Linked DNA regions of Homo sapiens. The protein of the gene in region 4 purifies or fractionates together with the protein of the main gene of each other region. This does not show direct contact. Each region holds a gene or a part of one and is shown on either strand. Other genes may lie near its edges.

The links.
Region 1: the proteins of CACFD1 (region 4) and ORC4 purify together in Homo sapiens (affinity purification with mass spectrometry; one large-scale study listed by BioGRID and IntAct). This does not show direct contact.
Region 2: the proteins of CACFD1 (region 4) and MARCHF5 purify together in Homo sapiens (affinity purification with mass spectrometry; one large-scale study listed by BioGRID and IntAct). This does not show direct contact.
Region 3: the proteins of CACFD1 (region 4) and SEC63 purify together in Homo sapiens (affinity purification with mass spectrometry; one large-scale study listed by BioGRID and IntAct). This does not show direct contact.
Region 5: the proteins of CACFD1 (region 4) and CZIB purify together in Homo sapiens (affinity purification with mass spectrometry; one large-scale study listed by BioGRID and IntAct). This does not show direct contact.

The regions. Positions count from the first base shown.
Region 1 is NC_000002.12:148,008,895-148,015,019, reverse strand, and holds part of ORC4 (origin recognition complex subunit 4), read left to right. Parts: intron 1-6,125. UniProt on the Homo sapiens protein: Component of the origin recognition complex (ORC) that binds origins of replication. DNA-binding is ATP-dependent. The specific DNA sequences that define origins of replication have not been identified yet.
Region 2 is NC_000010.11:92,306,528-92,312,652, reverse strand, and holds part of MARCHF5 (E3 ubiquitin-protein ligase MARCHF5), read right to left. Parts: intron 1,519-6,125; coding exon 1,316-1,518; intron 1-1,315. UniProt on the Homo sapiens protein: Mitochondrial E3 ubiquitin-protein ligase that plays a crucial role in the control of mitochondrial morphology by acting as a positive regulator of mitochondrial fission and as an important regulator of immune response.
Region 3 is NC_000006.12:107,900,084-107,906,208, forward strand, and holds part of SEC63 (translocation protein SEC63 homolog), read right to left. Parts: intron 4,639-6,125; coding exon 4,546-4,638; intron 2,916-4,545; coding exon 2,761-2,915; intron 1,435-2,760; coding exon 1,287-1,434; intron 1-1,286. UniProt on the Homo sapiens protein: Mediates cotranslational and post-translational transport of certain precursor polypeptides across endoplasmic reticulum (ER). Proposed to play an auxiliary role in recognition of precursors with short and apolar signal peptides.
Region 4 is NC_000009.12:133,461,869-133,467,993, reverse strand, and holds part of CACFD1 (calcium channel flower homolog), read right to left. Parts: exon of another isoform or gene 5,812-6,125; coding exon of another isoform or gene 5,775-5,811; intron 4,512-5,774; coding exon 4,439-4,511; intron 2,673-4,438; coding exon 2,547-2,672; intron 1,758-2,546; exon of another isoform or gene 74-1,757; coding exon 1-73. UniProt on the Homo sapiens protein: Transmembrane protein which mediates synaptic endocytosis and fitness-based cell culling.
Region 5 is NC_000001.11:53,216,579-53,222,134, reverse strand, and holds the start of CZIB (CXXC motif containing zinc binding protein), read left to right. Parts: upstream 1-1,500; 5' UTR 1,501-1,559; coding exon 1,560-1,565; exon of another isoform or gene 1,566-1,775; intron 1,776-1,790; coding exon 1,791-1,874; exon of another isoform or gene 1,875-2,334; intron 2,335-3,211; coding exon 3,212-3,268; intron 3,269-3,639; coding exon 3,640-3,721; intron 3,722-3,931; coding exon 3,932-3,963; intron 3,964-5,275; coding exon 5,276-5,353; intron 5,354-5,556.

The DNA.
Region 1 (6,125 bases), on a different chromosome or scaffold from region 4:
AATGCATCAGTATCTTTTTAAAGATATTGGTGATATTCTTACTGTTTCTGGTTACCTGCTGAAAATTACAATCTTGCTTTTATTGGCCTAGTATAGTTGCTCCTTAGTATCTGCTGGAAATTGGTTTCAGAACCCCGTGCAGATACCACAATCCACAGGCAGCTCAAATTCCTTATATAACATGCCATCATGTTTGCATACGGCCTACACACATCCTCCCACGTATTTTAAATAATCTCTAGATTGCTTATGGTACCTAATACAATGTAGATGCTATGTAAATATTGTTATACTGTCATGGCTTTTTAAAAATTTCTATTATTTTTTATAGTCGTGTTTTTAAAAATATACATGTATTTTTAATCCTTGGTTGAGTGAATCTGTGGCTATGAAGGGCCGACTATATTCATAGTTCATTTGTTGTTTGTTGAAGATAATTCCAGTTTCTAAATTTTCTAAGTCTGTGTCTGCTAGCTTATGATATTTTTTTCTTGTGTGCCTTGAGTACCAGTTGTATTTAAAAAATTATAGGAATATATGAGTCCTAGAATAATAGTATCTTTTTTAAGAAGGTACATTTTTCTAGGAAAGGTCTCTAGGAGTGCTTTCAGTCCCAAGTCACTATTCATGTTCAAGAGTTGGGATTCCTTCTGTTATACACATGACATTAAGGAAGACTTTAAGATCATGAATTCTATTTTCCTTCAATTTCCTCTTATCCTAATGATGTTGTCCTTAAACTCTGAACATAAATTGGGTAGTTTATCTGAGTCCCCAGCTTTGTTAGGCAATGTGCTTTTATTTTTATTTTTGATTTTGATTTTTTGTGTTTATTTTTATTTTAAATGAGGTCTCGCTGTATTGCACACAATCATCCTGAATTCCTGGGCTCAAGCTATCCTCCTGCCTTGGCCTGTCAAAGGATAGGATTACAGGCATGAGCCACCACACCTGGCCTTGTGCTTTGATTTTTTTACCATAGACCGGCACATCTTCCATTAGCTCAGCCTTTTTTCTCAGCCTTTTCTTCTAGACAGGAAAATGTCCTCAGAACAAAAGTTACTTGGTGTATGGTTTGTTTCTGGTTTACCTTCACATGGAATTTGGTAAGTAATTTCACATTACTTTATTTCATTCATTATTTAGTTTTTTTGTTGGCGTCAGCAGAAAGGTTGGTCCTGTCTGCCACTACCATAAATAAAACCCTAATTGTCTTTCTTTTTTACTTCTGAGATTTGATTTTAATATATTTATGCTTTGAGCCAAAATTTTTTTAACTTAACTCATATATTTAAAAATTTTAATTTTTAATTACTATGGATACATAAAATGGGGAGTATGTGATATTTGATATAAGCATACAATGTGTAATGATCAAATCAGGTAATTGGGATATCCATTACCTCAAGTATTTGTCATTTCTTTGTGTTAGGGACATTTCATTTCCACTCATTTAATTGTTCTAAAACATACACTAAATTATTGTTAGCTGTAATTACTATATTGTGCTACTGAACACTATATTTTATTCCTTCTATCTAACTATATTTTTCTACCCATTAACCATCTCCTCTTGATTCTCCTCTCAACACTACCCTTCCCAGCCTCTGCTAACATCTTTTTACTCACTATCTCTATGACTTCAATTTTTTTGAAGCTTCCACATATGGGTGAGAACATGTGATACTTGTCTTTCTATGCCTGGCTTATTTCCCTTATAATGTCAGTCACATCCATATTGTTGAAAATGACAGGATTTCATTTTTTTTTTATGGCTGAATAACATTCCATTGTGTATATGTACCACATTTCTTTATCCATCCATTGATTGACAGTTAGGTTGATTCCATATCCTGGCTATTGTGTATAGTGCTGCAGTTAACATGGGAGTACAGATACCTTTTATATACTGATTTCCTTTCTCTTGGGTATATACACAGTAGTGGGATTGCTGGATTATAGTTCTATTTGTTGTGTTTTTAGGAAGCTCCATACTGTTCTCTGTTGTGACTGTGCCAGTTTACATTTCCACCAACAGTGTACAAGGGTTCCCCTTTCTCCACATTCTCACCAGCATCTGATATTGACTGCCTTTTCGATAAAAGCCATTTTAACTGGAGTGAGTTGATACCTCATTATAGTTTTGATTTGTATTTCTCTGATTATTAATAATGTGGAACATTTTTTTCATATGCCTGTTTGCCATTTGTATGTCTTTTTGAGAAATGTCTCCTCAGATCTTTTGCCCATTTTAAAATCAGATTTTTTTTTCCTATTGAGTCGTTTGAGATTCTTATATATTCTGGTTATTAATCCTTTGTCAGATATTAGTTTGAAATATTTTCTCCCATTCTACATGTTATATCTTCATTTTATTGTTTTCATTGCTGTGCAGAAGCTTTTTGGCTTGGAGAGATCTCATTTGTTGTTATTTTATTTTATTTTCTTGCTTTAGTTGCTTGTGTTTTTGAGGTCTTATTTAAGAAGTCTTTGCCTAGACCAATGTCCTGGAGTTTTTGCCTAATGGTTTCCTTGATTAGTTTCATAGATGTAAGTCTTTAATGCATTTTTCTTTGATTTTTGTATATGGCAAGAGTTGGGGTCTACTTTTGTTGTTCTGAATGTGGGCATCCAGTTTTCCCAACACCATTTATTGAAGAGACTGTCCTTTCCCAATGAGTGTTTTTGGCACCTTAGTAAAAAACTAATTGGCTTTAAATACACAGATTAATTTCTGGACTCTCTGTTCTGTTGTTCTACATGTCTGTTTTTATGCCACTATCGTGCTATTTTGGTTACTATAGCGTTGTAGTATATTTTGAGGTTTGGTAGTGTGGTAAGTCTACCAGTTACCAGCTCTGTTCTTTTTGGTCAGGATTGTTTTGGCTATTTGGGGTCTTTTGTGCTTCCATACAATTTTAGGATTTTTTTTTTCTATTTCTGTGAAGAATGTCATTGCTCTTGATAGGGATGGCTTTGAATCTGTAGATTGCTGTGGGAAGTATTGTCATTTTAACAATACAATTTTTTTCAACCCATGAGCATGGGATGTCTTTTCATTTGTTTGTGTCCTCTTCAATTAATTTCATCAATGTTTGATAGTTTGCATTGTAGTTGGTTAAGTTTATTTCTAGATATTTAATATTATTTGTAGCTATTGTAAATGGGATCACCTTCTTGATTTCTTTTTCAGATAGGTTGTCACTGTTGGCATAGAGAAATTCTATGGATTTTTGTGTGTTGATTTTGTATTCTGCAATGTTACTGAATTTATTAGTTCTAATAGTCGTTTGTTGGAGTCTTTAGGTTAGTATAAGATCACATGAGCTGCAAACAATGATAATTTTACTTACTCCTTTCCAATTTAAATGCCCTTTATTTCATTCTCTTGTCTGTTTACTCTGGCTAGGACTTCTGTTACTAACTTGAGTAATAGTGGTGAAAGTGCCCATCCTTCTTCTAGATCCTAGAATAAAGGCTTTCAGTTTTTCCCCCATTCAGTCTGATACTAACTGTGGGTTTGTTGTGTATGGCTTTATCATGTTGAGGGATGATCCTTCTGTCCCCAGTTTGCTGAGAGTTTTTATGAAGGGATATTGAATTTTATCAAAAAAGATTTTTTTGGCATCTATTGAAATGACAATACACTTTGTGTCCTTCATTCTGTTGATACCATGTATCACACTGATTGATTTACATATGTTGAACCATCCTTACATCCCTGGGATGAATCCCACTTGATTATGATGATCTTTTTAATGTGCTGTTGAATTTGGTTTGCTGTGTTTTGTTGAAGATTTTTATATCTATTTTCATCAGAGATACTGGCCTGTAGTTTCTTTTTTGTTGTTGTTGTATCGTTGTCTGGTTTTGGTATCAGAATAAATCTGGGGCCAGGCATGGTAGCTCACGCCAGTAATCCCAGAACTTTGGGAGGCTGAGGCAGGCAGATCTCTTGAAGCCAGGAGTTTGAGACCAGCCTGGCCGACATGGTGAAACCCCATCTCTACAAAAAATACAAAAATTAGCTGGGCATGGTGGCTTATGCCTGTAATCCCAGCTAATCTGGAGGCTGAGGCAGGAGAATCGCTTGAACCCAGTAGGTGGAGGTTGCAGATCACCTGGGCAACAGAGTGAGACTCTGTCTCAAAAAAAAAAAAAAAAAAAAAAAGAATAAATCTGGCCTCATAAAATGAATTTGGAGATCCTCCTTGATTTTGGAGAATGATTTGAGTAGGATTGATGTTAGTTCTTCTTTAAATGTTTGGTAGAACTCAGTGAAGCCATGAAGTCCTGGCCTTTTCTGTGATGGGGGACTTTTTATTATTGTTTCTATCTTGAAACTTATTATGGGTCTATTTCGATTTTGGTTTTCTTAATGTTTCATTCTTCTTAGGCTGTATGTGCCTAGGAATTTATTCGTTTCTTCTAGGTTTTACAATTTATTGGCATGCAGTTGTTCAAATGGTCTCCAATGATCCTTTGAATTTTTGTGATATCAATTGTAATGTCTCCTTTTTTGTCTCTGATTTTATTTGGATCTTCTTTTTTTTCTTTTCTTAGTCTGGGTAAAGGTTCATTGATTTTGTCTGTCTTTCCAAACAACCCTTTTCATTTCATTGATCTTTTCTATTTTTTTGTCTCAATTTTATTTCTGTTTTTTATTATTTATTTTCTTGTTTTCTTTATTATTTCTCTTCTTAATTTGGGGCTTGGCATGCTCTTGCTTTTCTAGTTCTTTAAGATGCATTACTAGGTTGTTTATTTCTTGGTTTTCTACTTTTTGATTTGCACATTTATTGCTATAAACATTCCCTTTAGTGTTAGCTTTAACTGTATCTCATAAGTTTTAGTAGGTTGTGTTTCCATTTTCATTTGTTTCAAGACATTTTTTAATTTCCTTAATTACTTCATTGGTTGTTCAGGCACGTATTGTTTAATTCTTATATGTTTGTATAGTTTCCAAAGTTCCACTTGTTATTTATTTCTACTTTTATTCCATTGTGGTTAGAAAATATACTTTTTATCAGACTTGTTTTGCGGCCTAACATGATGGTGCTCTTTTTGGATTTCTGTTTGCATGCAATGTCTCTTTCCATCTTTTGGTCTATCTATGTTTTTATAAATGAAGTGGGTTTCTTATATGTAGCAGGTAGTAGGGCCTTGTTTTGTTTAGCCCTTCAGCTCTTCTGTGTCTTTTGATTGGAGAATTTAGGATCCATCCTTGAGAAATGTTCCATGTGCTAAGGAGAAGAATGTATTCTGCGGCTGTTGGATGACAGCTTCTGTAAATGTCTATTAGGTCCATTTAATCTATAGTGCAGATTAAATTCATTGTTTCTTTCTGTCTAGATGATCTGTCCAATGGTGAAAGTGGGCTGTTGAAGTCCCAAGTCATTACTGTATTGGGTTCTGTCTCCTTAACTCTAATACACTTGACTCTATATATCTAGATGCTTCTGTGTTGGATAGATATGTATTTATAATTTTTATGTCCTCTTGCTGAATTAAAACCTTTTGTATTATATGATAACCTTTTTTTCTTTCTTCATAGTTTTTATGTTGAAATCTATTTTATCTAAAAATAGATACAAAGCTACTTGGGCTCTTTTTGGGTTTCTGTTTGGTGCAGTATCTTTTTCCGTCTTTTTGTTGTTAGTCTATGTTTTTATAGTGAAGAATTTAGTCCATTCACATTCAGTATTATTATTGATAGGTAAGGACTTACTACTGCCTTTTTATTGTTGTTCTGGTTATTTTCTAGGGCTTTTCCCCCATTTTTTTCCTTGTTTTCCTTTGTGATAATTATTTTTTGGTAGTATGTTTTAATTTCTTGCTTTTTATTTTTTTGTGCACCTATTAGAGGTTTTTGTTTTGTGGTTACTATGAGGTTAGCAAATAACAATTTATAGCCAATTATTTGCAACTGATGACAACTCTGATTGCAAAGAAAAGAAAAAATACACGCACAGAAAAAACTAAAAACCTGTACACTTCTACTCCATCCCTTCACTTTTTGACTTTTTGTCTCTATATATTTTTATATTTTAAGTTTTGGAGTAGTTTTTTTTTGATAGTGTTATATAGAAAGTTTCGATGCTGCAAAAGAAATAGCACTCGAATAC
Region 2 (6,125 bases), on a different chromosome or scaffold from region 4:
TAGTACAACTAAGAGCAAGAAAAGAAATCAGTTAAATATGAAACCTTAACTTGGACTTTAGTGAGTCTTTCACCATTCATGTGGTGGTACAATAATGTGAACAATCATTGCTTTTCCTGATACTGATTTAAAAATACTTCTTTGATCTTACAATAAAAACATTTTGAATTATTCTTTTGTGTTTATCTAAAATCAGTGGTATGCACTGAAGACCCATCACATGGTCCACAAATTCCAAATGTTTGAAAACACTACTTTCTCTACTACACTACTTCCCCTTCAAAGGAAGCTATCATTTCTTCCTGTGCATGTTAGAGAAAAACAGAGAACCAAGGACATTTTGTTTGCCCTTATTATTAATCTTCTCATATTAGAAAAGCACTTCATTATCTGCATTTATGTTGCCACATTTTCAAAAACATTGGTCTGATTTCAGTATGAATAGCACTTATAAAAAACAATATATATAATAATTATTTCCAATTTTTCCTGAATTCCCTCTGCCCCCAAAGACATTCTTTCCTTATGACCTTCCCAGAACCCAAGCTGCCTTCCTATACCTCTTGGTTACAGTCAAGGGTTATAAAAAAATGTTTAACAACTGGCATGGTATAAACACCAAACCAAGAGATTGACACCAATTTATAACTGTATGGCTGTAATGGAACAGGCTCACTAAATATCAGCCTTAGTTATACTGCTGCTAAAGAAGCAGCCTTAGAATGCTTCTTGTAAGCAGTCTGCTATACTTTTTTTCCATGCTAGGCCTGTTCTCAAAGATCTTTGGTTATTTCTTACCTGCCACTTCACAGAAAAGGGATAGCAGGGTTCATGAAAGAAACCACATAAATTGGATTCCAAAGATGAGTTTAACGTCACATCTTATTAAATATTTAATTTCTCTACTTTTATTCCTTAAAAGGAAGAATTAAGGAGAAGTATTAGAACATACTACTGCTTTCTTTCTCTTACACCGTCTCCAGATAATTAAGCTAAGTTAGTTTTTTTTTTAAAAGTCAGCTTTTTATTAGAGCTTTGTTATTCAATTATATCCACACAGGTATGCAAGTTCTTTCTCCTTTCTATCAAACAGACAGTTAATACACAGGCAAATGGATAAATTTGGGGATATATTAAGGATACTGTAAACTGTTAGCAAAAGAAATAAATGTCTGACATTCAGAGAGGAAACAAGAGAAAGGGAATATAGAAATTCACACCCTAAAAAAAAGAGGTGGTTCATTTTAAAATGAACTTATAAAGTTATATATAATAACATCAACTATATCTGTGTTGTTTTTAAAGATATTCTTACCCAATTTTGGAAAAACTATTAGGTATTCAGCATTGCACTGAGGACATGCCACTCTGGCTGTACTGTTTCCTCTTTGCTTTTCATCCACCCAGCGTTGTAGACAGGCCTGGTGAACCCATTTTGTAGATCCTCTGCACCTGCATGGTCTCACCCATTCAGCTGTTCTATCATCTTCATCAGTAGCAAAACAAACCCAGCAACTTCTGTAAATTAAAAGAGAAAAGGATGACATTTATATCTTTAGGACTCCAGCCTCCTCTATACTGCAGCTCTTACTTAATGGGATGAGCCTGCTATGTTATATTACAGAATCTCTGTCCTATATTAAAAGACTAAGGAGACAAAACAACCAATACATTCCCACTAGAGCAGTTTCTACTTTTTCTGTTTTTCCTTGTCTTCCTCTACAGAACTTATGTTTTCTGAACTTTGTTTTTATGTAATCTCCTCTATCTTTTCAGTAATTCTTCACCTTCTCTAATGAACCAGAGTGCAAGGAGACAAACCTCAAGTTGTTTTTGTTATAAGACCTAATAATTCTTTGAGGAATAGTAAGCACAGTAATATATTAAATTCAGTGTTCTCCCCAGTTCACCACCACCAATCCCTTGAACTTGGAAAAACAAAGTATTACACGAGTGATTTCACATACAGTCTCATTCCATTTTTCAGCTGAGGAAAAAAAAACCCATTTTTCTTTCCGGTAAAGTATAAACATGAGAGAAAACAATATTACATTTTCAAAAAAGCACAAAGGAGATAAATATATCAAGATTTTTTTTTTTAGAATAGCAATATGATAAATTTGGGCGTGTATGCTTGAAATCTGAAATCTAGAAGTATCAAGTCTGGGGTGCTTATATTAATAAAAATAAAATTCTATTGAGATCGGTAATTTTAAAACATTTTCCCACTTTGCTTTTAAGGGTACTTCATGAATTGTAATTTTTTCTTGTGGAATTAGGTTGTAATTCCTCAGTTTTTCTCCCAATTAACACAAGTTTTGACATCGATTTCCATCAGGGCAAATACAGTTCAATTCAATGAGACCCTTCGCTCCTCCCCTCCATTAGAACTTGTACAAGTGGAAACAACTGCTAATTAAAGCATGTTACCTACTGTGCACTTTTTAATTAATTGGATAAGTGGCTTCTGTCAGAACAACTAGCTTAACTATGCTCAGTGGGAAAGACTATATACTCAGGTATTATAGATGGGTGAGGTTCTCCAGTCCTTGTGGAACAACATGAATTTCAATTGTGTGCTCCAATTACAATTTTTCAATTAGAACAGAAAAAAAGTTGAACTGAATCCAGGGCATCAATATCCAAAATAGTTGTTTTATTCAGCTTTCAAATTCAGTCAGGTTTCATAAGATCTAAGTAAAATTAGAACGTAGGTAGCATTTGTTTAGCATTCTGACCCTTTTGACCCACTTTAGCTAAGCTGTCTGGGCCTTCACATTGTCTTATGGTTGTCCAAAAATACTTTGTTCTTTTTTAAAAAATTTTATCGTCAAATAGACATAGCATAAAATCTACCATTTTAGCCATTTTTTAGGTGTATAATTCAGTGGCAGTAAGTATATTCATACTGTTGTGCAACCACCAAGACTACCCATAGTAGGACTGGGTTCTAACCTATGATTTTTGCATAAAATTTCAATTGGTAAGTATACTAGCACACAGGCTGGTTAAGATGTTGTTAGTATATATTTTTCCCCACAACTGAGGTAATTTTGTGGACATATTTGTATACATCTAGGAAATGGAATGTATCATTTTAGCAACAAAATACTGGCAGAATATTTAGAGACTCTTTAGTCTCATACTTTCTTAACACAAACGTAAATAAGAATAGCTACATCAGCATAATTAATCAGTATTATGGTGAATCACATTTTAAATTAATCCAATTTCAGTCATCAGAAAAATAAAATACAATGTTAGGACTAGGTTGAACCAACTGAAATAGTCTACATTAATCTGTTTCTGACTTACAGAAAAGATAGGTCAAATTTCATATTTTGATCTAATGAGAATACTTGTGTAGCTATTATATTCCTTATAAATTCTAGATAAGGTTTATTTTTCCCAAACATTTTATTATGAAAAATTTCAAACTTTCCAAAAAAAGTTAAAAACTGTTCAGTGACTACCCATATACCCAACATTTAGATTCTATAATTCTTATTCTGCTATATTTGCTTTCTCACACATCCATTCATTATTCTTATTTTTTGCTGCATTTCAAAGTTGCAGGCATCAGTATATTTCAGTCCTAAATACTTGTACAGATTTACTTTTTAGAACTGACATTTAAAGCATGCACTTGGCCGGGTGCCGTGGCTTAAGCCTGTAATCCCAGCACTTTGGGAGGCTGAAGCGGGCGGATCACAAGGTCAGGAGATTGAGACCATCCTGGCTAACACGGTGAAACCCTGTCTCTACTAAAAATACAAAAAAATTAGTTGGGCATGGTGGCGGGTGTCTGCAGTCCCAGCTACTCAGGAGGCTGAGACAGGAGAATGGCGTGAACCCGGGAGGCGGAGCTTGCAGTGAGCCAAGATCGCGCCACTGCACTCCAGCCTGGGCAACAGAGCAAGACTCCGTCTCAAAAAAAAAAAAAAACAAAAAACAAACAACGCACGCACTTATGCACTTTCAGTTTTTTTTCTAATTAATTTCACAACTATGGTAAATAAGATAGCTGAATGATGATTCAGAGTGCGTACTTATCAGGAGTTAGGCTTTCAGTTGAAATAGCAGTATTAGAGGCATGTGAACCAGAGCAACTCCGTCTTGATTGAATAGGAGCTGGGTAAAATGAGGCTGAAACCTACTGGGCTGCATTCCCAGATGGTTAAGGCATTCTAAGTCACAAGATGATATATGAGGTCAGCACAAAATACAGGTCATAAAGATACTGCTGATAAAACAGGTTGCAGTAAAGCCAGCTAAAACCCACCATAACCAAGATGCTCACGAGTGACCCCTGGTCGTCCTCACTGCTACACTCCCACCAGCACCATGACAGTTTACAAATGCCACGGCAACGTCACGAAGTTACCCTATATGATCTAGAAAGGGGAAGCATAGGCTGGGCGCGGTGGCTCATGCCTATAATCCCAGCACTTTGGGAGGCTGAGGAGGGCGGATTATGAGGTCAGGAGATCGAGACCATCCTGGCTAATATGGTGAAACTCCGTCTCTACTAAAAATACAAAAAAATTAGCCAGGCGTGGTGGCAGGTGCCTGTAGTCCCAGCTACTCGGGAGGCTGAGGCAGGAGAATGGTGTGAACCCAGGAGGCAGAGCTTGCAGTAAGCTGAGATCGTGCCACTGCACTCCAGCCTGGGTGACAGAGTGAGACTCCATCTCAAAAAAAAAAAAAAGGGGGGAAGCATAAATAATCCTCTCCTTGTTTAGCATATCATCAAGAAATAACCATAAAAATGGGCAACCAGCAGCCCAAAGTCTTGCTCTGTTGCCCAGGCTGGAGTGCAGTGGTGGTCTCGGCTCACTGCAACCTCCGCCTCCCGGTTCAAGCGATTCTCATGCCTCCGCCTCCCAAGTAGTAGGATTACAGGGTGCCCGCCACCATGCCCAGCTAGTTTTTGTATTTTTAGTAGAGATAGGGTTTCACCATGCTGGCTAGGCTGGTCTTGAACTCCTTACCTCAAGTGATCTGCCCACCTCAGGCTCCCAAATGCTGGGATTACAGGCATGACCCACTGCGCCTGGCCACACACAGCTAATTAAAAAAAAATTTTTTTTTTAGAGACAGGATCTCCTTATGTTGCCTAGACCAGTCTCAAACTCCTGGGCTCAAGCAATTCTCCTGCCTTGGATTCCCAAAGTTTTGGGCGTGAGCCACTGTGCCTGGCCAAATATGTTAAGTTCTAAAGAATTTATTAACTGATTTGCTATCTTACTAGTTGTTTAAATTTAATCTACCTAGTATGGAAAGAATAGCAGTCTATGAAATGAGGACTGGGCAAAGGGGAAATTAAAGCATGTAAAAATGGTCACACAAATGTCTTTAGGCCGATATCAGCATATAAGAGTGTGACTAGTCTTAAGGGCTAAAAAAAAGGAGGGGAGGGCACGTGCGTGCATGCACGCGCACACACACACACACACACACACACACACACACACACAGATGTTTTCTTTCCTTATTTTATGAGATGGGTCTGGCTCTGTTGTCCAGGCTAGACTCCAACTGAAATCCTGGGCTCAGGTGATCCTCCTGCCTCAGTGTCCTGATTACCTAGGACTGCAGGCATATAGTCTAGCTTCCTGCCCCCTCCCCTGCCCTTTTTTGAGACTGAGTCTCACTCTGCCACCTAGGCTGGAGTGCAGTGGTGCAATCTTGACTCACTGCAACCTCTGCCTCCTGGGTTCAAGTGATTCTCCTGCCTCAGCCTCCCTAGTAACTGGGACTACAGGCATCCACCACCACGCCTGGCTCATTTTTGTATTTTTAGTAGAGATGGGGTTTCACCACCTTGGCCAGGCTCGTCTTAAACTCCTGACCTCAAGTAATCCACCTGCCTCGGCCTCCCAAAGTGCTGAGATTACAGTCATGAGCCACTGCGCCTGCCCATCCGACTGACCAGGAACATCACCTGGGAAGGTCTTATAATTATGCTTTCCCTTTTTGCTTCTCCATACCCTACCCCTCCCACTCTATGTAATTAATCTACTTCAACGATTTATTCCCCAATTCTCTACCCCCTTCCTTTTAAGATGGAGAAGAGCTATTTGAAAATGATTCATTTATAATTTCTCAACATCTTGGAATGGAGG
Region 3 (6,125 bases), on a different chromosome or scaffold from region 4:
ATATTTGCTGTATAAATAAATGGTACAATGTCTGTGTCATTCACGTTAACACTTAGCATATGTTATCTTGGTGTGTGTGTGTTTTTTTTTTAATTTTATAAAGACAGGGTCTCACTATGTTGCCCAGGCTGGTCTCGAACTCCTGGGTTCAAGTGATCCCCCTGCCTTGGCCTCCCAAAGTGTTGGGATTAAAGGCATGACACCACTGGGCCCAGCCCTTATCTTATTTTTAAGCCTATTGCTTCAACTAGACAATAAGCTCTCTTTAAAGACACAAACCAGGCACGGTGGCTCACACCTATAATCACAGCACTGCGGGAGGCCAAGGCAGGTGGAGCAGTTGAGCCCAGAAGCTCGTGACCAGCCTGGGCAACATGGTGAAACGCTGTCTCTACTAAAATTACAAAAAATAAAATTAGCCAGGTATGGTAGTGTGCACCTGTAGTCCCAGCTACTCAGGAGGCTGAGGTAGAAGGATTGCTTGAGCCCGGGAGGCAGAGGACGCAGTGAGCCAAAATCGCACCACTGCACTCCAGCCTGGACGACAGAGTGAGACCCTGTCTCAAAAATTATTTATAAATAAATAAAATAAAGACAGAAACCATTATTAATATATCCCTGTATTCTTGGTAACTAAAAGAATGTTCTCATAATAGTAACTTAGCAAATGTTAAAGCTCAGACCACCACCACAATGAAAGAATGGAGCAGATAGTCTCTAATTCTCTCAGTATTCTAAGACCATTCAGATATTGAAATAGAAACACAGAGCAATTATATAGGTAGAAAAATAGCCTTTATTTTTTTCCCTCAAAGAAAATATAGAGGTAGGGCAAGAAAAACACATGAAATGTGGCATAAAACACAGTAATTTTCAACATTTAATTAACATAAATAAGTTGGGTTTTAAAAATTTAATTTTAGAACTAGGCAGCTATTTCTTTCATACTAATAATATACTTCAAATATCTCATTCTTTTATTATGCCTGGAAGTCTTCATCATTCTTTGGAAAGTTAAGAAATTGCTAAAAGTTGAACTACAGAACAGAGTGTTCAGACTTCATCCCATTATGAGGATAATAAAAGTAGGACTCTATCAGTGTTCTCAAACTATTAGGTATAAATCATTTTCCAACATAGTAAATCTGACAGGTAAACTACAGTTCTGCAAAGTCTAATAACAAGTTATGTTATTAAGTACAGTGTTTTGAGAATCCTGAGTCAAATAAATGAGAACCAATCTATCAAAAGGGAAGCAATGCTCAACAGAGAAACCTCCCACTTACCCTGTGATTTTATATCCATGGTCACATATGGAAAACTCCCAAGGACAGCCATAACCTCTTCATATTTTTCATCTTCAAGGAAGTGCAGTAGAGTGTGACGATCTGATTCTTTTAAACTCACCAAATCCTGGATAGTTTTAATTTTATACTGAATAAAAAAAAAAAAGAAAATACATAATTCCCTAACTCACAAAGCTTTTCATAAAAAGAAAATTACTCACATGTTAACCACAACAAAATCCAGCAACTTTTAGAAAAGTGTTGATTAATGTGCATTTCAAAGTACAAAATAACGATATGGCATTTCATGACCTTTTTCTCCAAGAAAATTTAAATTAAGAATTTTTAAATTATAAAGTTAATACAGGCTTATTTTTTTAAATTAGAAAAAACAAAGTTGGAGGGAAAAAATAAGAATCTTGACTCAACCAAGAACTTTGTCAATTGATGTCCTCAGTTTATTTTCAATTTTAATAACAAAAACCTTTAATTAGCAATTAATAGGTTTACTATTAACAAACCTTTAATAATAAACGTTTACTTTTACCTAATAAAAGTAAAAATAAACCTCAATAAAGACGCACCTTCAAAGTTTTACTATGCAATATTCTCATTTTTGTTATTCTTAAAATATAGCTATTACTACAGTAATATCCATCTTGGCAAAATGGTTACTTAGGAGCGTGTTCTTTAATTTTCCAGGTGTTTGGTGCTAGTTATTTTTCACTTTCAAAGACACAGATTAGATCATGAGGCATGTAAAATCTCTGCTTTTAGATTCTGAAGTTTTTAATTATGACTTAACATACAATCAAATTTATAAGGGGAACATGAGTACTTAAAAGGACAGAGAACTCTGATACTAATTTCCAACATGCATTTATTAATTCTACATTAATATACTATCAAATCCAATGTCTATTCTCTGCTAGTTTTATCTATCATATACAAAATAATGTTTAAAATCTCCTACTAGAATTGTAACTTCAGTTTCTTATATTTCCTCAAGTTTTTCATTTACACAAATTTTTGTTATATCTTAAGATTCATTATCATGTTTATACTATAGATTATATATTCTAAATAAGAACTGTCTTTATTTGATTTATTAAATGTTTTTGTTGTTCATGCTTAACCAGTAAACAATTGCCCAACCTTAAGCCAAGAATAAAATGACTGTAAAGTAGACAGTACATTTATTTTTGGTAACATAATATAAGGAACTAACTGTTGACTTTTTAAATGCAACAACCCCCAAAATAATAAAACTACTTACAGTAGTAAAATACTATAAAACACAGCTACCTAGTCAAGAAAATGTTAACAGAACCACCTGAGAGAAAGTTTTAGAGTATTTAAGACATTCTAAATCTAAAAAATGCATAGTAACCATTTCCAGAAAACTTTTATTCATGTTACCTTTAAGTGACAGGACAAACTGCTGAAAACTGACTTTAAAGTAGCAAAGAATTACCTTCTTATGATTAGAAACCCGTCTAAGATTGTCCTCTTCAATATGAGGGAGCTGCAGAAGGGGAGACTTAAATTGCTGAAGTCCCTGAACGGCCATCTGAGAAAGCTTCATGCAGTTTTCTAGGGATGCCAAAGTTGGAGCACGAAACTCCCTTTCTTAGAAAGAACAGGAAAAAAAGAAACAGGGCTGGACTTTTTACATGTTCAGGAGTATACAATTCATCACAAAAACAAAATTCACACTAAATCCATAACACCTCAAATTTGAGGATCATAGTAAGATTTTCCTTTAAAAGTTACCAGAGAAGACACTAAAAATATACAAACTCGATCTAATGAACATTTTCCAGCAACAACCATTGATTTAAAAGAAAAATTATTTGCCTCACCTCAAATAATAGTAAATTATCAGACATTATCAGTATCACCAACATATGACACCATGACAAGAACCAACATCACCCGTAACAACAAACCATAACCACTATCCTTTTTTAAGGGCATTCCTTTCCATTACTGACCAGAAATTCCCTCATTCTTTTCCTTCCATACCAAAAAAAAAAAAATGGCTAGGTGCCTGTAGGCATGTGGCTCATGACTGTAATCCCAGGGCTTTGGGAAGCTGAAGTGGGAGGATTGCTTAAAGCCAGGAGTTGGAAACCAGACCAGTCTGGGCGACAAAGTGAGATCCCACCTCTACACAAAATGTAAAGTTAGCTCCGTGCTGTGGTATGCACCTGTAGTTCCAGCTACTCGGAGAGCTAAGGTAGAAGGACTGCTTGAGCCCAGGAGTTTGAGGCTGCAGTGAGCTATGATTACCCTACTGGACTCCAGCCCTGGTAGATGCTGTCTATAATTAATTAATAAAAATTACATGACATATGAATCACTTTTATATCAGTTAAAGATTTCAAATTCACTGTTAGAAAAAATGACCTAACTCAAAAATTATTCAAAGAAAGAGAAATTTTAAATCTTTGCAAACAATTGAACAATAAAATAATTAAATTATCATGCCTGTAATCACAGCACTTTGGGAGGCTGAGGCAGGTGGATCACAAGGTCAGGAGTTTGAGACCAGCCTGACCAACCTGATGAAACCCCGTCTCTACTAAAAATACAAAAATTAGCCGGGCGTGGTGGCATGCGCCTGTAATGCCAGCTACTCAGGAGGCTGAGGCAGGAGAATCACTTGACCCTGGGAGGCGGAGGTTGCAGTGAGCCAAGATCGCGCCACTGCACTCCAGCCTAGGCGACAGAGTGAGACTCTGTCTCCAAAAAAAAAAAAAACAAGAATTAAAATCAAAAACACAGTGACCAGGGCTTTGGGAGGCTGAGGCAGGTGGATCACGAGGTCAGGAGATGGAGACCATCCTGGCCAACATGGTAAAACCCTGTCTCTACCAAAAATACAAAAATTAGCCAGGTGTGGTGGTACGCGCCTGTAATCCCAGCTGCTCAGGAGGCTGAGGCAGGAGAATCGCTTGAACCCAGGAGGCAGAGGTTGCAGAGAGCCAAGATTTTGTCACTGCACTCCAGCCTGGGCGACAAAGCAAGACTCCATCTCAAAAAAAAAAAAGAACAAAAAAAACCCAGTGAGCTGTGATATAGACTTTAAATAATAGAAAATATAGGAAAGAAATATGAAAAGACATGAGTAAAATTGAAGAAGCTCACTGAACTGGCCGACAGAAGTCTGAGTACCCATAAATCCTAAAATATGAAGTACAATCTGCATATGCTTGCAAGAAAAAGTATAACATAATTAACTATATTTCCTCCTCACCTTCACGGTTCCGGGCCATTACTATTAGTTGGCAGATTACATTAACCATTTCTTGAAGTAGGGCAGGACACTTTTTTAGCATGAATTGCTGATCTGCAAAACAATAAAAAACCTGAAACAGATCATTTTAATTTTACAGTTAAAGCATCTTTATCACTGTGGCCCAAAACTAATATTAAAGTTATGCCACAAATATTTCACATGATCTCAGAATTTTACAGATTGAATGGAAGAGTTTCTCCTCAGTATCACTATGTCAAAAATCAGCCATAAAACCCTAGCTCAGATTAGACGTTTCAAAGACAAATTTTTAATATCATAATGTTAGGCTTAATAAACCAACTCCCAGCTGGGCATGGTGGCTCACGCCTATAATCCCAGCACTTTGGGAGGCTGAGGCAGGCAGATCAACTAAATATGTCAAAATAAATATGTCAGCTAAATACAGGGGGAGAGATAAGAGACGTAGAAGAGAAGAAGAGGGCAACTTACAGAAAGAGAAAGACTCTTTCATTTATACTGCATATAATAGTTAACTATTAAGACCACATTAACCTATGGATTTGGTACTCAACAATGATTTGTTTCCTGCTTCTTACAGGTAAGTAAAAATGGAGATGCTTATGTATCTGTACAGAACATTAGCAACAGAATTACTAGTTAATTGAGTATTTCAAAGCAACTCCAATGATATTGCCTAAATAGTGCTCCTTCATTCCACCATAAGCATCCTGTCCTATCACCAATTACTAAGCGTCACATGGCCTTGTTTTCGGAAGCATTTAACTGCATTACTGCCTTAAAGGAGGTGGGGGATGGTAGGATATCATTCAAAAAGAACATTTATTTCCTAGAGGTAGTAACTGTCTTTTAAAACTTTAACTGAAATAATGTCGGTGAAAAAGAGATAATTAATGACATCCCTGGAAACACTGTTGCCTCCATCAACTACTTTTCTTTTAAGCAGAATACATGGCTTCAAGTACTTATGAAGCTTTAAATAACTATAAAACAGACATTATTGGTAACCACTGTCGGAGGAAGCTTGTAGATGGGGAGGTGAGAGGTGTTGGTTGTTGTGAAATCCATTTTGCTCCCTCCAAAAACTTACAAAGTCCTTTAAAAAAATTATTAGGAACTTTTGTATGATCTGCAATTAACTAAACATTTCTTATACAGAGCATTCTCTCACCTTGAAACACTAAATTTTAACACTTGCCAAAACGTCTGACTTACTTAGATCTTCAAACCATTTGTGAAGTAATTATGTAGCATATACATTTCTTTTTTAAAAAGTCCTTGAGCAATTATTTGGCCAAAAAAGAACAGCAACAAAACACACCGCACCACCATGCTATGGTTTGGGTCTGTGTCCCCACCCAAATCTCATGTTGAATGGTAATCCCCAATGCTGGAGGTGGGGCCTGGTGGAAGGTGATTGGATCAGGGGGGTGGAGTTCTCCCTTTGGTGCTGTTCTCGAGATACACTTCTCACAAGACCTGGTTGTTTAAAAACGTGTGGCATCTCCCCCATCTCTCTCTTCCTCCTGCTCTGGCCATGTGAAGACACTTGCTCTGCC
Region 4 (6,125 bases):
CGTAGCAAAGGCGATGGCGTTGCCCAGCAGCGTGGTCAGGGTCAGGCTGATGACGATGGGAACGACCGCCATCCTGGGGGGAAAGCAGAGGTCAAGGGGGCACTCCGGCCCCACAGCCACCACATCCTTCCCCGCTTCCCAGACTCGGCCCAGCATCCTTCCTAGACACCCAGGGCACAGGAAGGATCCCCAAAAATCAACTGAGACACAGCTTCAGAAAGTCCTTCATCAGCCCTGAACTTGTCTGTAAAACTGTTCCATTCTGGGAATAGGATCCAAAGCTTTCATCAGATTTTTGAAGGGGTCTGTGATCCCAAAAAGAGCTAAACAGTAACGAGATGGTCCAGTGCCCTCACTGTGAGAAAAACTGGCCAGAAAGAGCCTGTGACAGAGAATCTGGCTTCCCATCCAGGACCTACTAGCTTCGCGGGCAAGTTACTCGGAATCTCCACCGCGGAGAGGGGATCAAAGCTTGTCCGAGGTCAGTCATGTTACCTACACAATGCTGACCACCACAGGCACTAAATAAATGCTCTGAGTTATAGAGTAACACCAGCCACATCGCCACAAGTAAGGTCCCTGGAATTCAACCACATGGAACACAGGGTCTCATCATGGGAGGGCTGCAGGCTGCGGGGTCTGCGGGGTCGGCCCAGACCTTGCTGCAGTTTGGCGTCACCTGGTGGCAGGGTCCACTGGGGCTTAAGCGTCCCCGGGGCTGATTCTCCATCCTGGCTGGAATTTCCAGGCCAGCAGCAATTCCTGGGCTAACTGGGCCAGGAGGATACCTGCAGCCTGGAGGCCAGCGCTCTGTCCTGTCGCCTCCCTAGAGGAGGCTGCCTGTGCAGGAGGACAAGACTCGTGGCCAATTGCATTCTACCTCAGTTTCCATTCTTGTAGACATGTGGTTGTGAGATTTTTCTGTCGTTAAAAAATTTCAAAATGATAAAATAATAATAGAAATTACAAAGAAAAAGACCACGGCGGGGAACCTTCTGACAAAAACAAAATTAAAGGCAAACAAGAGCCTGGAAAAATAGTTGCAGGAAATACAACCAAGGATCATGAAATCTTTAATACAGAAAACACACTGAACTTGCTAAGCAGAACACTGAGGTTCCCACAGGTTAAAAAGTAAACTCGAAAATTTTCATATCAGAAAATGCAATGGAAACACGTGGGAAAATATTTTTCCCTCTTAGATAACAAATAGATAAATGCGAATGTGAAGTGGTGTGCAGCCCTGGGCTGGGGTGGGGGCGGGGGAGAGACTCAAGGGACCTCTTTGGAAAGCAACGTAGCCACGCATCTTAAAATATTTTTAATGATCAGAATCTTTGACCCAGTAATTCCACACCTGAAAATAGATATTAAGGAAATCATCATAAACACAGAAAAAGTTTTAGCAGACACATGTTTATCACACCTCGATTTACACCAGTTAAGAAATTAAGAACAGCATGATACATCCAGCTGAATGAATATTCCTGTATTGAAAGAATGTTATAAAGTCTGTGGTGATGTTCAAATGCTTATATCATTACTCTAAGTGAAAAAAGGCAGGATACAAACTTATTCATAATGGTTATAACTGTGTTAAAAGCAGGCTTTTAAAAAATGCCTGCAGACAGGAAGCACACACATCAGAAGATTAGCAGGCAGCGGGCTTCGAGTAACATTGTTCTATATTCCAAATTATTGTGAATGAATTTCTATGATGTCTAGCATTTTTAAAATACAGTTTTTTGAACCCCTAAGGACATGACACTGCGTGTAGATAAGAGCTTTGTGATCCTGTGTTCTTCGTGATTTAGATATGGCACAAGATGGCTCCAGAACTAAGCATGTGGCTTGTGCTCTTACCATCAAAACTACCGGGCCTCTCTGAAGGGGAAGCAAGCTTGCATCTAGACTTCTTTCTAAAGATAACCTAGACAATAATGAATACAGCTGCCACCAGCCTCCTATGCACTAGAGGCATTATTCTAGGAGTTTCCGTGTATTAAGCTTATCCTGAAATTAGTTCCTTCTTATGACTGAGAGGAGAAGTATTACATATTGATTTCATTGTTAGAAATGGGAAAATTTTTAACAAGTGTATTTAGAGGGCAACCACATTTTCTGCTCTGCAACCTGCTTCTCCCCCTTCACGTCAGGACATCTAGATGAACCCACTCTTCGGAAAGGCTGCAGAGAAACATGTCCTACAGACCTACTATCATCTGGTTAACAACTCCCAGTGGACGGACCAAAATTCCAGACGCTTCCCACTTTCTCTCCACTGCACGGATGCTGCCACACATGCTCATATACCTCTGAACCTTCCAGTGACTACGGCACAGCGACAGCTGAGTTCCTGGGCGCAGAACCACTGGGGCACGTTTTGGCAGCTATGAGCAAATCACTGTGCACAAAGGCAATCCCAGTTTACACTTCCACAGAGAGGAACTGAATACACTGCCCACCCTCACCTGACTTTTGGGTCCTATTTTGTCAGTGGGGTTTTGGGGAACTGTGTCACGGGACCCTGCCCAGCAACCCCTCACCCGCAGTAGAAGACAGCCTTCTGCCAGGAGCGCAGCCGGTCCACCTTCTCCGCCACTGTGTTTGCAAACTCGATGAACTGGCAGCAGAAGGGCGCCTCACACAGCAACAAGATGAAGGCATTCATGCTGCAGGGACCAGGGCAGGAGAAGAGCAGCGACTGACAATCCCAGGAGGATGAGGGCGGCCCCCAGTGCCAGTGCCATAAGGAATGCCACCTCCCTCACCCTCCTGCCCTCATCCCTCCTCCTCTGGGAAGCCGCCCGGCTGCTCCAGGGCACCTGCTCGTACCCCTCGGAGAGCCTCTGCTGAAGACTCCAGCACTCCCCAGCTGCTCCTGCACACCCATCTCCCCAGCTGAACTGAACACTCCTAGAGGGAAGCCCCTGGGCTTCTGCTTCCCTTTATCCTCCTCCTGTGTGACATGGAGGAAAGGGGACCCCACATCATGGCACTGCTACAACGCTGCGGCAGGTTCATCCACAGATGGAGCACTGGCAGCTGTGTCCTCTGTCTGCTGTTAGTATTATCGCCATGGCCACCAAAAGCCGTCAGTGGCACCAGCACCAGGAAGGCTGCCCCACCAGGGAGGCAGAGAGCTGGAGCCACGCAGTCCCAAAACAGTCACGGAGAGCTGCCCACACACCTGATGCCACCGGCCCCAGGCCCGGGGACACCCAGGGGAAGCCCACGCTGGGGAGGAAGAACTTTAGCAAGTCCTTGCATCCAGCCCTATGTTTGGGGTGGGAACAGCTAAGCCACTGGTGACGGAAGGTGTCTGCTGTGGTCTTGGTATTCTCTATGCATGGATAACAATCAGTTAGCAGACACTGAGCCAGGCCCTTCTGTCCCCAGGCCTGGGAGAAAAGTGCCATCATTATGCCTGTGTAACAGAAATGCAGGCTCAGGACACCTAAGAGCCACCCCAAGCCCGGGGCAGGCACTCTCTTCACAACTCTTAACCACTGCACCCGCCCCGAGCCTCCCACACACCAGGCCTCCAAGCACGGGCTCACTCTGTGCTGGGCCAGCCCTTCCACTTCAAACTCGGCCAGGCTCCGACTCCACCCCCTGAAGCTGGGCTGGGCGCCTCTCTGTCCATCCCCCTTCCCTATCCACCACTGGCCAGCACAAGCACTGAGGACCCCACCACAGCAGGCCCCCGAGGCTCTCCACTGGCCATAGGTCACTGGGGACGGGACCTGAATCTCGTCTAGCTCTGTACCCCTCAAGGCACCAAGCCCCATGAGGACACTCATCAATTCCTGGTGCACCGCCACTTCTCACGTGCCCCAAGCCACACGGGCCTGCCCTCACCCCGCCTTCCCTTCCGATGGGATGGCGAAACCCTGGCAGGAGGTGGGCATGGAACGCACATGAGGGTGTTCTGACCACGGGTTCCCGTGACAACTCCGACCCGCCTCTCCCATCTATCTTTGGCACAGCTCCGAGCTCGAGTGCCCTCTCCCAGCAGACCATTCAACCCAGTCCTCAGCCAGCCCCAATGAACAGCCTTCCCCACCCCAGTCCTGGGAGCTCCCAGAGGGCGAGGGCCCCAGTATAGTGGACTTGGCATCTGCAGTCTCAGTGGATGCTCCAGAAATGTCTGGAGCACTGATGGCCTTGCCCCTGCACCGGATGAAGGCCGGGGTGGGCATTCCCTGGGCCTTGACCTCTCATTAGGAAACTAAACATGGTGGGGGTATGAAGGGGAAGAAGCCGCATGCTGTGGCCAGAAACTCACATGCCCGAGGCACCCAGGCTGGAGCCAGTAGCCATGGCAACCACAAGGATGCCCACTCCCACGGCCCCTGCCACTCCTCTGTCCCGGGAGGTGCCCAGCAGATTCCCGACCAGCAAGACCCCCGGGGTGGGACGGCCATGCATTACTCACATCATCCACACGCCGGCCGCAATGTTCAGAGGGTGGATGGTGATGCAGTTGAAGAGGCCAGAGATCGCGCAAGCTTGAAACAAGAGACACGGGCAGGAGTCAGCAGGGAGGCAGGCGGAGCCCGCTGGGAAGGCGGCCTTGGGAGATGACTGGAAAGGACGAGAGTCTCTGCGGATGCTCAGCACACAGTTCTCACAGCACCCAGAAGCCTGCCCTCTATCGTCTGAGACAGGTGAGGAGACGCAGAGAGGTGCAGTGCCTTGCTTGCCCCAGGCCCCACAGCAAGGTGGCAGCAAGGTGGCAGGTGGATCTCACAGCATCCTCTCCCCGTTTCAGGGCTCAGAGGAGCTGGCCCTCTGACCCCAGCTACATCAATATCCACCTCAAAGGGAGGTTAGGATTAAAGAAGGATTAAAGAGTGAATGTCCCTCAAGGATTCAGGCCAGTGCTCCCCCAAGACTCAGCCTTCGGTAAGGGTCACTTGCCACCATTCACAGGGCCGGCCACACAAGAAGTCCTCTGACTCAGAAAATGTGGCTTGGATTTTGGTTGGGACAAGGGGTGCCTCTCTCAGAACAGAGATGGGAACCAGGTAAGACTGAGCAGCAGTTCCAGCTCTAACTTCCTCACCAGCCCTGTGCCACTGGCACGCTATCTTCATCTTCCTAGACCCGTTTCTCCTCTTGCACATGAGCAAGTCCCACAGCCCAGCCACCCACCGCTGAAATGCCATAAGGCCAGGAAGGGGAGGGGGCATCGTTTTCCACCCCAGAACGTGGCTTCTCTGATGCTCAGATGTGCAGCCTTGACGCCCCGCCTCCCAGCTGCACCTCACCAGCAGGGTCTCTTGCACCCAACTCCCTCCTCCACCCACAGCCTGCAGCCTGGCTTCACCAGGAACTCCAGGAGCCTTCAAGGCAGGTCCAAGGAGGTGGCTGCTGGGCAGGGAGCAAGCCCAGGCCATCACTGAGGGGGGCCTTGGAGGCAGCAATTAGCACCCAGCTCATTAAACTTGCAGCAGCTCCTCTGCACCTGATCCCTCCACCTGGGTCTGGAATTCTGCTGTTTTCCATTTTCCCAGGTAACCTTATGCAGACAGCAGGCAAAGAAGCCAGATAAAGTGAGCCGAACTGCAATGGGACTGCTTCATGGGCCCCCAGGGTCTCCTTCTAAAACAAAGGACTCAAGCGTTGCACTGCTCCTCAGCACAGCCTTAGACATCTGCCTTCAGACAGCAAGGTGTTCCAGAACCACAGGTACACAGGGGCCTGCCTGTCCTAGCAGAGTGCCCAAAGGGTGACACGGCTCCCTGCCTCTCTGCTGTGCCTGGCCTCACCTGACAGCTCGGCTGTGCTTCCTGCTGCAGTCAGCATTTGGCCTCCAGCTCCAACCCTACCCCAGCTGTCCAACCCACAGCCAGCCTTGGGGGAGGACCAGGTGTCAAGCCAGACCAGCAGGCTCCAGCCAGGAATCCTTTAGCAATAAAGGGCTGGAGGATGTCCACTTGGGGGCCTCAATGCTGATATCTTCCACGTGAGGGGGCTGTCACCATGCAATCCTGTCCCCTCCCAAGGTATCACCTCCAGATGCTCTTAGGACCCAGGGTAGACCCTCTCCAGGTACTCTCTCTGATCCCCTCACCCTGGAGGAGGAAAACCTTACCCAAGGACCAGCCCGGCACACAACC
Region 5 (5,556 bases), on a different chromosome or scaffold from region 4:
CTTTCGAATTTATTTAGGACCCTGAAGCACTTTAGCCAGTGGTGGTGGGGCTCGCCAGAACCTGACCACTGGGATGGATGATTCCCCTCTGGCTAGGGTTTCTCTAAGTGCTTCCTCTGTGGGCACTAGCTGAATTCTGCCCTGAGTTGCTTTCCACTGTGACAGGGCAAAACTCAGTTCCAATGCAAAGTCCCATAAGCACACAGATTCTCTCTCTATGCCAGGCAGCCAGGTGCTGCCAGAGGATGAGGGAGGGGTGGTGGTAGCAATTCAAGACTGTCTTTCCTACCCTCTTCATTGCCTTGTTCCTTTTTTTTTCTTCTTTTATGAGATAGAGTCTCACTCTGTCACCCAGGCTAGAGTGCAATGGCATGATCTCAGCTCACTACAACCTCCACCTCCCGGGTTCAAACAATTCTCCTGCCTTAGCCTCCGGAGTAGCTGGGACTACAGGTGTGCACTGCCATACTCGGCTGATTTTTGTATTTTTAGTAGAGACAGGGTTTCACTATGTTGGCCAGCTAGGTCTCAAACTCCTGACCTCAGGTGGTCTGCCCGCCTCAGCCTCCCAAAGCACTGGGATTACAGGTGTGAGCCACCGCACCCAGCCATTGCCTTATATCTTGATGTGACGTTACAACCAGCTACTGTGATTGCTACCTGAGTTTTGGTTCTCATGAAGGTGCTTTCTTGTGTGGATAGTTGTTCAGTTTGGTGTTCCTGCCAGGGAAGAGGAGGAGGAGGATCACTGGAGGGTTCTATTTGGCTATCTTGCCCCACCTCCTAGAAGAGTCTTGAATGTGCTGTTCCTTTTACCGTTAATCTCCACAGCTCCTGCATGGTCTCAGATGTAGCCTGGACAGGAGGCCAGGTAAAATAAAGTTCAATAAACGTTATGAGAGAAGGATAAGCCAGGTGGGCTCCCAAAAAAGAGCCAGCTGAAGGGGAATGTCCAGTCGCAAGGACCACAGTGAGAAGGATGTGGACACAGGGCAAACTCTGGAGAAGGGCCTAGAAACCAGGTCTCTTGGGTGAAACAGGAAAGGGCAGTTTGAAGAAAGGCATCATCCCCAAATCTGATAAACCAATACATTCTACTTTTTAAAGCGTATTGGTTTATCTTTATTTGGCAGTCTTGGAACTCTTCCTTTTGTAGCTTTTCCCCTGGGCAGAGGGAGCTGACGTGATCTGAGAAGTTCCAGGGCAGGCAGAGTAGTGAAGAGCCTGGAAAGAACTGAGGGTCAGGAACTGTCCTGTTCGCTTAAAGCAGGCACAAAATTGGCGTTCAGTAACTGTCTGTGGCACCACCGAATCCTGGAGTCAGGCTTCCGCTGGCCTGAGCACAGGTTGCTCGCGGACCTGGCTGACCTCCACTGGCCCCAGATCCCCAGATGCGAAAAGCCCAGTGGGCCAGGCGAGCAGCGGCGCGCAGAAGTCCCTGCCCCGCGGCCCGGCCCCGGCCCCGCCCTACTGAGGGTGCGCAGACGGCACCCGCCTTTTACGACGCGCCGGAAAGCAACGGCAAGGGCCGCAGCCAGCACCGGGCGGAGAGGGCTACCATGGGGGTGAGGGGAGGCCGCCCGCCGCGGGGACACGGAGGGGAGGTGGCGAGGGTCTGGGAGGCAACAGCTCGCGCCAGGAGGAGATGAAGCGAGTGGGTGCGCGCTGAAGGAGCAGGAGGCAGAAGGAGTGTCTCCCTGTGGCACCCACGGCTGGGAATGCGGGAGGGTCGGGCAGGCGTGGGGCTGCGCAGGCACGGCTGACGCAGTCGCTCTGGCCCTCCCCCTCAGAAAATCGCGCTGCAACTCAAAGCCACGCTGGAGAACATCACCAACCTCCGGCCCGTGGGCGAGGACTTCCGGTGGTACCTGAAGGTGCGGCCGGGGCGGGGCCCGGGGAGAGGAGGCCCGTCCTGATCTCAGTGCTGAACCGGAGCCTTCTCTCCGGCAGTATGAGAAAATATTTAACCAGGCACATTAAGTGTTCGGGGTTTTCCTAGTTAGAATTTTACGTTTGCTTTCTATTAAAGTGTATTGGTTTATCTCTAATTGGCAGTCTTGGAAAGCTTCATTTTGTAGTTCTTCCCTGTGTTAAATATTTCGTGGTCTGTAAATGGACACTAAACGAAATGCTACTTGAAGGGACGCTTGTGATTATTTAATAAGGTGAATAGTTCGCCTTTCGTTTATTGATTTGGTTTTCTTTATTGTGAAATAGTTTAATTTTGTGCGTAATCCACCCTTCCTTAGCCCTCCCACACTGGTAAAGCTGGTACCCTAGTGGCATGGTCTACAGAGGCCTCCCCTTCCCCAGCAGTTCGAGGCTCTTCACTCTTCCAGATCCCAGAGCTTCTGCTCTGTTTTACTCCTGGTCAAAAATCCCAGCATCCTTCTGTACCTCTCAAAAGCCCTGTTTTTCGGGAAGCTGCCTCCGGACTACTTTTGTTTCCCAGGATTTTGAAGCCTGAATACCAGGGCTTACTTGGGAGAATCTGTTCTTTGGCTTGAAGAAGCGGAATCGAGTGAAGGAGACAGAAAAATAGAGTAACAATAGAGTGATAAGTGCTTATACCAGTGACATACAGGGCCTGTGGGAACATAAAGCTAACCAAGCAGAGTGGGTCGGGGGCCTGCTGAGGCCATTTCTCTTTTTTTTTCTTAATTGACACAGAATTGTACATATTTATGGGGTATATAGTGATGTTCCGATAAATGTAATGTATTGTGATCAGATCAAGGTAGTTAGCATATTCACCTCAAACGTGTATCATTTCTTTGTGTTGGGAGCATTTAATATCCTAGCTATTTGAAACTATATATTATTGTCAGCTATAGTCATCCTACAGTGCTATAGAACACTAGAACTTATTCCTCCCATATAGCTGTAATTTTGTATCTTCTAACAAATCTCTCCATATTCCCCCCCCTCACCTCCGCTGAAACCATTTCTGCACCACAGGTGCCTTGAATCCCCGGCCACACTGAGCACTTCATAGAGGAGGGTGGGCACGCCGGCATAGGAAACAGCCTTACCTATCCTTTGCCCAGAGATAGTTCTAGTTTTGTCCTTGTTGGGGCAGGTGTTAGGGATGAAGTGAGATTGCCATCAAGAAGGTAGATCATGAGCCTGCCCACCTCCCACTGTTCTTACCCTTTCCTTGGTGTCTGTGCAGCAGAGCCAGCTGCTTTACTAACATTCTTTTTCCCCAAAGATGAAATGTGGCAACTGTGGTGAGATTTCGGACAAGTGGCAGTACATCCGGCTGATGGTAACTGTTCCCCGCCCAACCCCCAACATAAACACTCACAAACACACATACACTTCTGGGCAGGGATTTGGGGAAACTGGCCTTCATCTCTCCAGTTCTTTGCTCCCTGCTTTTTGTGGTTTGGGAGGGTAGGTGTCAGTGTGATCAGCACTGGATTCAATAGGCATCTTTGAGGTATGAGGCAGAGTTCAAAATCAAGGGGAAGCCCTTTTTTTATTTTCCTCAGGAAGCCTTCCCAGGAGTCTTGTCCTAGTAAGTTACCCTTTCTGGGTCTTGGTCTCTTTAAGTGGACAATAAATGGTGGGCTCGATCTCCTCAGGACTGTACATCTAATTCATATGTGACTGAAAGTTCTGTTTGCTTTTTGCCAGGACAGTGTGGCACTGAAGGGGGGCCGTGGCAGTGCTTCCATGGTCCAGAAGTGCAAGCTGTGTGCAAGAGAAAATTCCATCGGTAGGTCAGGCTGTGCGTACTGAGTTCTGCCAGGGTGGCCCACAGCTTCCTGGCACCAGGCTGAAAGTAGACTCATGTTACCTGAGGGTGGAGTCAGGCCTAAGATGCCGACACCTGTACAGCGTGATCTTTTTCAGGGCCACATGTGGGCACCTGGCTGGGGCGAGGGTATGGACTCAAGTCAACTTTGTGTTCTCTTTTCTATTTCAGAGATTTTAAGCAGCACCATCAAGCCTTACAATGTAAGTTTGCTGCTGTAGTGGCAGGGATGGTGGGCTTAAATCCTAACTGGAGTTAGTAGGTCTGGGTTCTAGAGTCATGCCTGCATCAGAGTGACCTGCCATAGGACATTCACTCATGAACTTAGTTCTTCTTTGACTCAGTCATTTATCCACTGTACACTGAGTGCTTGGTATATTGCCTCTTGCAGTGCCTTCTTATGAGGGCTGGGCTGTGAGAGCTCAGGGGACCTCTGACACAACCTAGCTGTTCAGTTTGCATCACTGAGAGCACTTGCCTTGTCTTCATTTTAGGGGACTAGCAAGCTTTCTCTGAAACCATGGGTGGGGTAGTCGTTTGGTGCATCCCATCCTTTATATCATCAGTGTTAACAAGTTAGCCCAAAGGTGAGGGAGGGTGTGCTTTGGATCTGTTTGTTTAAAGAAAGCCAGTTATATGTATTCACCTATTCCTTATTTGGTATTTATTTAAAGTATCTTGAGTTGTGCCAAATTCTTGGCTTTGTCCTGAAGTTAAAGAGAAATTAAATGAGGACTCGCCTTCACGTACATAATAATCTAGTGGAAAATACAAAAAACAAGAATCGAACTAGGGCCCTAACAGAGAAGTGCCTTACCAGTGCCAGAGATGTGGTCAGTGTGCAGGAAATTACTTTACAGTGAATGACAGGATGAGACTGAATGTAGGGCATGGCACTTGTGGTCCCTAAGCCCATAGGTCAGGTAGGCATGAATTTCCTGGCCACCTGCCCCCCAAGAGGTGCCCCCTCCACATACATAACCATTTCAAAGGCTATAAGACAGCCCTCTGCCCTTACTGCATGGCAGATGGTCAGCAAAAGGCTATGGTTAAGTGTACTGGGTCTGTTTGGATGATCTAGAGACTTTGGAGCTTAACATTCTTGTTCATATTTTTGGTGTTGATAATTTTATTTACTATTTATTGAGCACTGTGCTGGGCACTTTATATGCATTTCAAAATCTGACAGTAAAATTGTAGAGGTTTCCTCGGCTCTATTTGACAGTTTAGGAATCTTGGGCCCAGAGGGGAAGATAGGCAGAGCTTACCTTACATCCAGGCAGGTTGACCCCAGCATCCACGCTCTTCTGCAGCCTCCATGTCTGCTGTCTACAGAAAGCTTCATAGGGAGCAGGTGCCCAAGGCAGGCTTCCTCTAAGAAGGGGATGAGTTCTTCCTGGGTCTCATACTAGGCCTCCAGGGGCAGTAAGTGCCCATTTGGCAGGAAGGAGAGGGGCCATGGGGTCATCCTGAGAGCTCATTTGGGCCTGCCTCCTCAACACACTTCCTTTCTAGGCTGAAGACAATGAGAACTTCAAGACAATAGTGGAGTTTGAGTGCCGGGGCCTTGAACCAGTTGATTTCCAGCCGCAGGTGTGTGTGTATCTTTCTGGGGAATCTTTGTCTTTGGGGAGGGGATGTATGAAGTGACAGCCAGAACTGTGCTACCTACAGATACCATGGACTAGACATTCTCCTTTCTAGCGGTAGTAATAATTGTCCCTTAAGTGGCTGCTGTATGCTTGGGCACCCATGCCATCATTTTTACATGTTACCACATTTAATTCTTATGGTAA